2 linked regions of the Homo sapiens genome follow. The protein of the gene in region 1 purifies or fractionates together with the protein of each later gene. This does not show direct contact. Each region holds a gene or a part of one and is shown on either strand. Other genes may lie near its edges. The genes, in order: PCDH9 and SLC35F2.

Region 1 (3,821 bases):
TACATTATAAGTCCCATCAATGGCACCGTGTATTTATCTGAGAAAGATCCTGTCAATACAAAGATTGCCCTAATTACAGTTTCAGATAAGGACACAGATGTGAATGGCAAAGTGATCTGTTTTATTGAAAGAGAGGTCCCATTTCATTTGAAGGCGGTATATGACAACCAATATTTGTTAGAGACCTCTTCTTTGTTGGACTATGAGGGCACCAAAGAATTCAGCTTTAAAATTGTTGCCTCTGATTCTGGGAAGCCCAGTTTAAATCAGACTGCCCTGGTAAGGGTTAAGCTTGAGGATGAAAATGACAACCCACCAATTTTCAACCAGCCTGTAATTGAGCTGTCAGTTTCTGAAAACAACCGACGTGGGTTATACTTAACAACTATTAGTGCCACAGATGAAGACAGTGGGAAAAATGCAGACATTGTTTATCAGCTTGGACCGAATGCCTCCTTCTTTGATCTGGACCGAAAAACAGGAGTTTTGACAGCCTCCAGAGTATTTGACAGAGAAGAACAAGAACGATTCATTTTTACAGTAACTGCCAGGGACAATGGGACCCCTCCCCTCCAAAGCCAAGCGGCTGTGATTGTTACTGTTCTGGATGAGAATGACAATAGCCCCAAGTTTACTCATAATCATTTTCAATTTTTTGTGTCTGAGAATCTGCCAAAGTATAGTACTGTGGGGGTAATCACAGTGACAGATGCAGATGCTGGAGAGAATAAAGCTGTGACTCTTTCCATTCTAAATGACAATGATAATTTTGTGTTGGATCCCTATTCTGGAGTCATAAAGTCAAATGTCTCATTTGATAGAGAGCAGCAGAGTTCCTACACTTTTGATGTCAAAGCCACTGATGGAGGACAACCACCTCGTTCCTCTACTGCAAAAGTAACTATCAACGTCATGGATGTCAATGACAACAGCCCAGTTGTCATTTCTCCACCGTCTAATACTTCCTTTAAGTTGGTGCCCCTCTCAGCCATTCCTGGCTCCGTGGTAGCAGAAGTTTTTGCAGTGGATGTTGACACTGGAATGAACGCTGAACTAAAGTATACTATAGTGAGTGGAAACAATAAAGGCTTATTCCGGATTGATCCAGTAACAGGTAACATTACTCTGGAAGAAAAACCAGCACCTACTGATGTGGGATTGCATCGTTTGGTGGTCAACATAAGTGACCTGGGGTACCCTAAGTCTTTGCACACGCTTGTGCTTGTATTCCTTTATGTTAACGACACTGCTGGAAATGCCTCCTATATCTATGACTTGATCCGCAGGACTATGGAGACCCCGTTGGACAGGAACATAGGGGATAGTAGCCAACCCTATCAAAATGAGGACTATCTAACCATCATGATTGCCATCATCGCCGGTGCCATGGTGGTCATTGTTGTGATCTTCGTCACCGTTCTGGTGCGCTGTCGCCATGCATCAAGGTTCAAAGCAGCTCAGAGGAGCAAGCAAGGTGCCGAATGGATGTCCCCAAACCAGGAGAACAAGCAAAACAAGAAAAAGAAAAGAAAGAAAAGGAAGTCTCCCAAAAGCTCTCTTTTGAACTTTGTTACTATCGAAGAGTCCAAACCCGATGATGCAGTTCATGAACCTATCAATGGGACAATAAGCCTGCCGGCTGAACTGGAGGAGCAAAGTATAGGAAGATTTGACTGGGGCCCGGCACCTCCAACAACATTCAAGCCTAACAGTCCTGACCTGGCCAAGCACTACAAATCTGCTTCTCCACAGCCTGCTTTTCATCTCAAACCAGACACTCCAGTTTCCGTGAAAAAGCACCACGTGATTCAGGAACTCCCTTTGGACAACACCTTTGTTGGGGGTTGTGACACCCTTTCTAAACGCTCTTCCACTAGTTCAGATCACTTCAGTGCCTCAGAGTGCAGTTCCCAAGGAGGCTTCAAGACAAAGGGCCCCTTACACACCAGACAGGTAAACGAGCACTTTTACTGGTCTATAAGTACTGCATACAAGTGCCCAGTCAACCAGTATTAACGTGCCAGTATGTCTATTGTTTTGGTCTAACTTTAGCTTAGTTAGAAAGAGGTAAAAAAAAACTTGACCCCTTTTCTATTCCTCTGGGGCTCAGTCAAGAATTTTTAGAACAGCTTTGAAATTTCTGAGTTCTGAGAATATTTTCTCCTTTCAGTTTCCTTCAAATGGCAAAAGATGAAAAGAGAAAATTATTCCAAAATGTCCCAAGATAATGTTTGCTGAAGAAGAAAAAACCTGTCCTGATATGCCAAATTCTGCTCCTGGGGGTTTCCAAATTGACTGCTTCAAGACTTTCACCTTACCTTTTGATCTAAAAAGTCACCTTCAAATCTCAAGTTTTCAATGACTTTTGAAGGTGTGACTGCAATTATGTTGCAGCTATGGTTGCTAAAGGGGTTAATTTTTTTTTTAGTCTCTAAACAGGATAGTAGAATATTAAATGTACATCAGCTGTGAAGCACATGATCGTTGATAGATTGCAACTAAGCCATATAGGAAGTCTTCTCTTTGATTTCAAATTATTTTATTGTAATATATTAAATTCGGTACTTAATAGAAAGATTTTTAGTGTCCGCAGTGGCCAAATACTCTTTCAAAAAAAAAAAAAAAAAGAATGCTTGCTGCCTAATATAACTGATTTAAAAAGAAAAGAATGAATCCATTGTAAATATTCTCTCATCTTAGTAATGCATAAGTGATCTGTCATAACTCATTTTAAACTGTGAAATATGCCATATGAAGAGGGATTAAGAGGCTGAGAAACTCATATTTCAACCAAATCCAGAATTAGTTTTTCTTAGGTCTAATAATTCCTTGTTAATAAAGATTTAAATGCAGCGCTGTCTAATTTATTTCACTGGTGCTTGTCTGTTGCCACAAAATTTGAATATCGATAATAGCCTGTAGATGGCACTAGGGTATCATGTCGCTTGTGCTGGCCAGGTGCCAATCCCGCAGTAGCAAGGAGAAGGGGGAGGGAAGGATCAAGCTGGTAGTACAGCCAAAGATACCTTTTATTTAATGATAGTTGCTCTGGAGCAACTAGCATTTAAGTTCATTCGCTTGCTCTTTTGTGATTAGCTCTCAGCACACCAACTTTCTAGGATTTCGTAATGCTAGTTCTGTCTTTGTCGATATGGAGTTCACCTATGGTGATGGCCCATCTGTACTTGTTTATAAATAAGGAACACATAGATTTTAGAAAATCAAGTAAAGCAAAATTAGTTTGCAGAACAGTATCAACAGTTATCATTGATTAGTCTTTGGAGAATCAAGAGTTTTTATTTTCTGAGGGTGGGGTGAAGTAGGATGTTTTATTGAAACAGTTTCCCCCTTACCAACTATCATTTATTGCTCTGGAAGGACTTAAGGCTTCATGGTAATAAAATATTTATAAGAGTAATTTTGACAATGAGTCATACAGATACTCCCAGAACATCAAGTATAATACATATTACCATACAACTAAAATCTCCATTCTTAAAGTAAAATATTAAACAGTAGAGCGTTTTAAAAGTACAAATATTTACAGCTTAAATACACAGGAAGAAAGGACTTTAATCAGTATAGAATTTTAAAGGAGACTATGAGATTATTACATATAAGTCAAAGTTAGAACGACTTAATTTTTGTGTTAACTTTGTTAGTATTTGAAAAGAGGTTGATGTTTTAAAATTTAAAAAATGTTCAGTCTTAGTAAAGGTTTTTAAAAGTTAAATAGTTAACTATGATAAGAAAAGTAATTTATGAAACTAAATGAGTTTGATTAAAAAGTTGCTCTTAATGAACAGAAAGAAAATTTTTTA
Region 2 (3,821 bases), on another chromosome or scaffold:
TGCCTCCCAGGTTCAAGTGATTCTCCTGCCTCAGCCTCCCGAGTAGCTGGGACTACAGGTGCCTGTCACCACACCCAGCTAATTTTTTGTATTTTTAGTAGAGACGGGGTTTCACCATGTTGGCCAGGCTGATCTCAAACTCCTCACCTCGTGATTCGCCTGCCTCGGCCTCCCAAAGTGTTGGGATTACAGGCGTGAGCCACTGTGCCCAGCCAATATTGTGTTTTTAGCAGAGATGAGGTTTCACCATGTTGGCTGAGCTGGTCTTGAACTCCTGGCCTCAAGTGATCCACCTCCCTTGGCCTCCCAAAGTGCTGGGATTACAGGCCTGAGCCACCACGCCTGGCCAACACCCACACTCCTTGTTATTGTCTAGCAACAGGTCTGGGATACACCTGTGCTTTCTCCTTTCATTTTGGTTTCCGCCTTCCACAGGGTAAAGTCCTAGACATTTTTGAAGGAGTCATTTAGTTGTGCTTAACTGTGCAGACTTTATCCAATCAACAGACATCTATTGAGCTCTCACTGTGTATGCAGCATAAATCCCAAGCTGGTATGTATCCCTGCTGAAGGGTATTGTTTATAGTGTTATTTAAACAAAGATGTAAAGTTAGGGATCTTTTGTGGCTTGTGCAGTTCCCTGGGGAATTGGGGAACTCTGGATTCTACGAGTCTCCATAAATTCTTCTCCCTTCCCCCTTTTTACTATGAAATTATTTACTATCTGCCCATTCTACTAGACTCCAGGAGTCAGGAATCATATCTAGTTATGGCCATTGTATATTCTGATTGTTACATTACTGACCTTGCAATAGATTCACAAAAAATATGGGATGCATGGCTGAGAATGAATCCTTAATTCCAATAGGCATTGTATAAAGGATTACATCCCTTTTTTTTAGAAAAAATTTCCACTCTGCATTATATGTTTGTGACCCAGTCATGTTGTTTTTTTCATCTAGTGTGTTTCTCAACCTCAGCCTTTTTTTTTTTTAATTTATTTTTATTTTTATTTTTTTTGAGACGGAGTTTCTCTCTTGTCACCCAGGCTGGAGTGGAATGGCGCAATCTCCAGTCACTGCAACCTCCGTCTCCGGGGTTCAAGCCATTCTCTAGCCTCAGCCTCCCAAGTAGCTGGGATTATAGGCGCCTGCCACCATGCCTGGCTAATTTTTGTATTTTTAGTAAAGACAGGGTTTCTTTCTTTCTTTTTTTTTTTTTGAGACAGCATCTCACTCTGTTGCCCCGGCTAGAGTACAGTGGTGCGATCTCAGCTCACTGCAACCTCCGCCTCCCGGGTTCAAGAGATTCTCCTGCTTCAGCCTCCTGAGTAGCTGGGACTACAGGCACGTGCCACCACTCCCGGCTAATTTTTGTATTTATAGTAGAGATGGGGTTTCACCATATTGGCCAGGCTGGTCTCGAACTCCTGACCTTGTGATCCGCCCACCTTAGCCTCCCAAAGTGCTGGGATTACAGGCGTGAGCCACCGCGCCCAGCTAAAGACAGGGTTTCACCATGTTGGCCAGGCTAGTCGCGAATTCCCAACCTCAGGTGATCCACCCATCTCAACCTCCCAAAGTGCTGGGATTACAGGTGTGAGACACTGTGCCCAATCAACCTCAGCCTTCTTGACATTTTGAGTTGACTAATTCTTTTTTTTTTTTTTGGAGACGGAGTCTCATTCCAGGCTGGAGTGCAGTGGCATGATTTTGGGTCACTGCAGCCTCCCCCTCTTGGTTCAAACGAATCTCTTGCCTCAGCCTCCCGAGTAGCTGGGATTACAGGCACCTGCCACCACGTTCGGCTAATTTTTGTATCTTTAGTAGAGATGGGATTTCACCATGTTGGCCAGGCTGGTCTCGAACTCCTGGCCTCAAGTGATCCACCTGCCTCGGCCTCCCAATGTGCTGGGCTTATAGAAGTGAGCCACCGTGCCCGGCCTTGAGTTGACTATTTGTTGGGGCTGTTCTGTAAGATGTAGATACCTGGCCCCACCCAATAAATGCCAGTATAGCACCCTCACCCCCACTCCCAGTTGTGATATTCAAAAGTGTCTCCAGACATTGCCAAATGTCTTCTCGGGGACAAAAATCATCCCTAATTGAGAACCACTGATTTAGTCTATTGTTTTTACCTGCTACAGAGTATTCTGTGGTTCCGTGGTCCATCCACCAGTGTTAGACAACCAGACAGCTTCCAACTCCCAGCCTCCACAAACATCACTGTGATGACCACTCTCATACATGTCCCCTATGTGCTGAAGAACGAGATGATAGCCAGGCTTGGGTCTGAGTCCCTCTAGGTAGAGGGGAGGGGATGCACCCCAGGATGGAGCAATCTTGGGCACTACAGAATCACCCTTGATTTCTGTTGTTCAGTGACTGTCCATTAAGCTATTCCTATCAGCTGCTCTGAAAGAAGGAGGAGGCAGTCTCTCTAGGTTACAGCCCATTAGCCCAAGGAGCTTGGAGAGGGTAGGTGAGGAATGATTGCTGGCTGGACAGCCTGAACCTGTTTTATTAATTTCTCAACACTGGAGGGAGTTGTTAAAGGGGCAGACATGTACTGTAGGGAGAGGTAAGACTGGAATTGAAAAGCTTTTCTCCAGCATGCCCTCCACTGGGCCTCTGGTTCCTCTTTCTGCCCCAGGCTGTAGTCTCCTTCTTCCCCTAGACCAGTTCTAGACAACCTTTGGGTTATTCCTTCTTTTGTTTGCTTCTTTCTTCTGGTTGACTTGAAGGAAGTCAGTGCTTATTCCCTGTCTTGACAGCGCTTCCAGAATAGTCCTAGAGTCCACCTCCCCCTTCAATCCCTATTGTCTTTTTTTTTTTTTTTTTTTCCCAAAACGGAGTCTTGCTCTGTCGCCCAGGCTGGAGTGCAGTGGCGCAATCTCAGCTCACTGCAACTTTCGCCTCCCAGGTTCAAGCGATTCTCCTGCCTCAGCCTCCTGAGTAGCTGGAATTACAGGTGCCTGCCACCAAGCCTGGCTAGTTTTTGCATTTTTAGTAGAGACGGGGTTTCACCATGTTGGCCAGGCTGGTCTCAAACTCCTGACTTCAGGTGATCTGCCCACCTCGGCCTCCCAAAGTGCTGGGATTACAGACGTGAGCCACCGCACCTGGCCTCAATCCCTATTGTGACTAATTCAGTTCAAGCCTTTATCATCTCTCACTTAGACTGTTGTAATAGCTTCCATCCATGCCTCCATCTATCCCCGACCCCAATCATCTCGCTACACAGAAGTCAGAGTGATGCCTAATAAAACGAAAGAGTATTAATGGCTGTCATCAAATGAGAATTCGCTGTGTATCAGGCACCCTACTTATATTTCATCAATCCTCATGACAATCCTACAAAAATAGGTTTTTTATTCTGTTTTGACAGACAGAGCAGGTAAGTAACTTACCCAGGACACTTGGCTGGTGAGAGGCAGAGCTGAGATAGTTTCATTTGTTTCTAAAATCCAGAGCTGCTTTACTCTTTCAAAAATCTCATGTGATATGACTAGTTTACTCAAAAAAATTAAAAGAAAAAAAGAAAGAAATCTCACTGCATTATGCTCAGGCTGAAAACCTTTTGGGATTCTTCCCATCACCTACCCTAGTGGTTTGCAAACCGGAGGAGCTCTTGGGGTTCCCTGGAGGTTCCTTAGGGTTCACCATGGGAAACAAGTAGGGGATAGGAGCTGGTGGGCTTCTGGGCTGGCCTCTGGCACCCACCAGGGTGTGCTGCTATTGATCGTTTTATAGTTGGGCTTTTATGCCAGATTAATAACAATAATACTGTACACTGGATAACTTCCAAGCCAAAGACACTTA

What was found.
Region 2: the proteins of PCDH9 (region 1) and SLC35F2 purify together in Homo sapiens (affinity purification with mass spectrometry; one large-scale study listed by BioGRID and IntAct). This does not show direct contact.

Annotation. Positions count from the first base shown.
Region 1 is NC_000013.11:67,223,537-67,227,357, reverse strand, and holds part of PCDH9 (protocadherin-9 isoform 1 precursor), read left to right. Parts: coding exon 1-1,953; coding exon of another isoform or gene 1,954-2,016; exon of another isoform or gene 2,017-2,170; coding exon of another isoform or gene 2,171-2,194; exon of another isoform or gene 2,195-3,821.
Region 2 is NC_000011.10:107,848,663-107,852,483, reverse strand, and holds part of SLC35F2 (solute carrier family 35 member F2), read left to right. Parts: intron 1-3,821.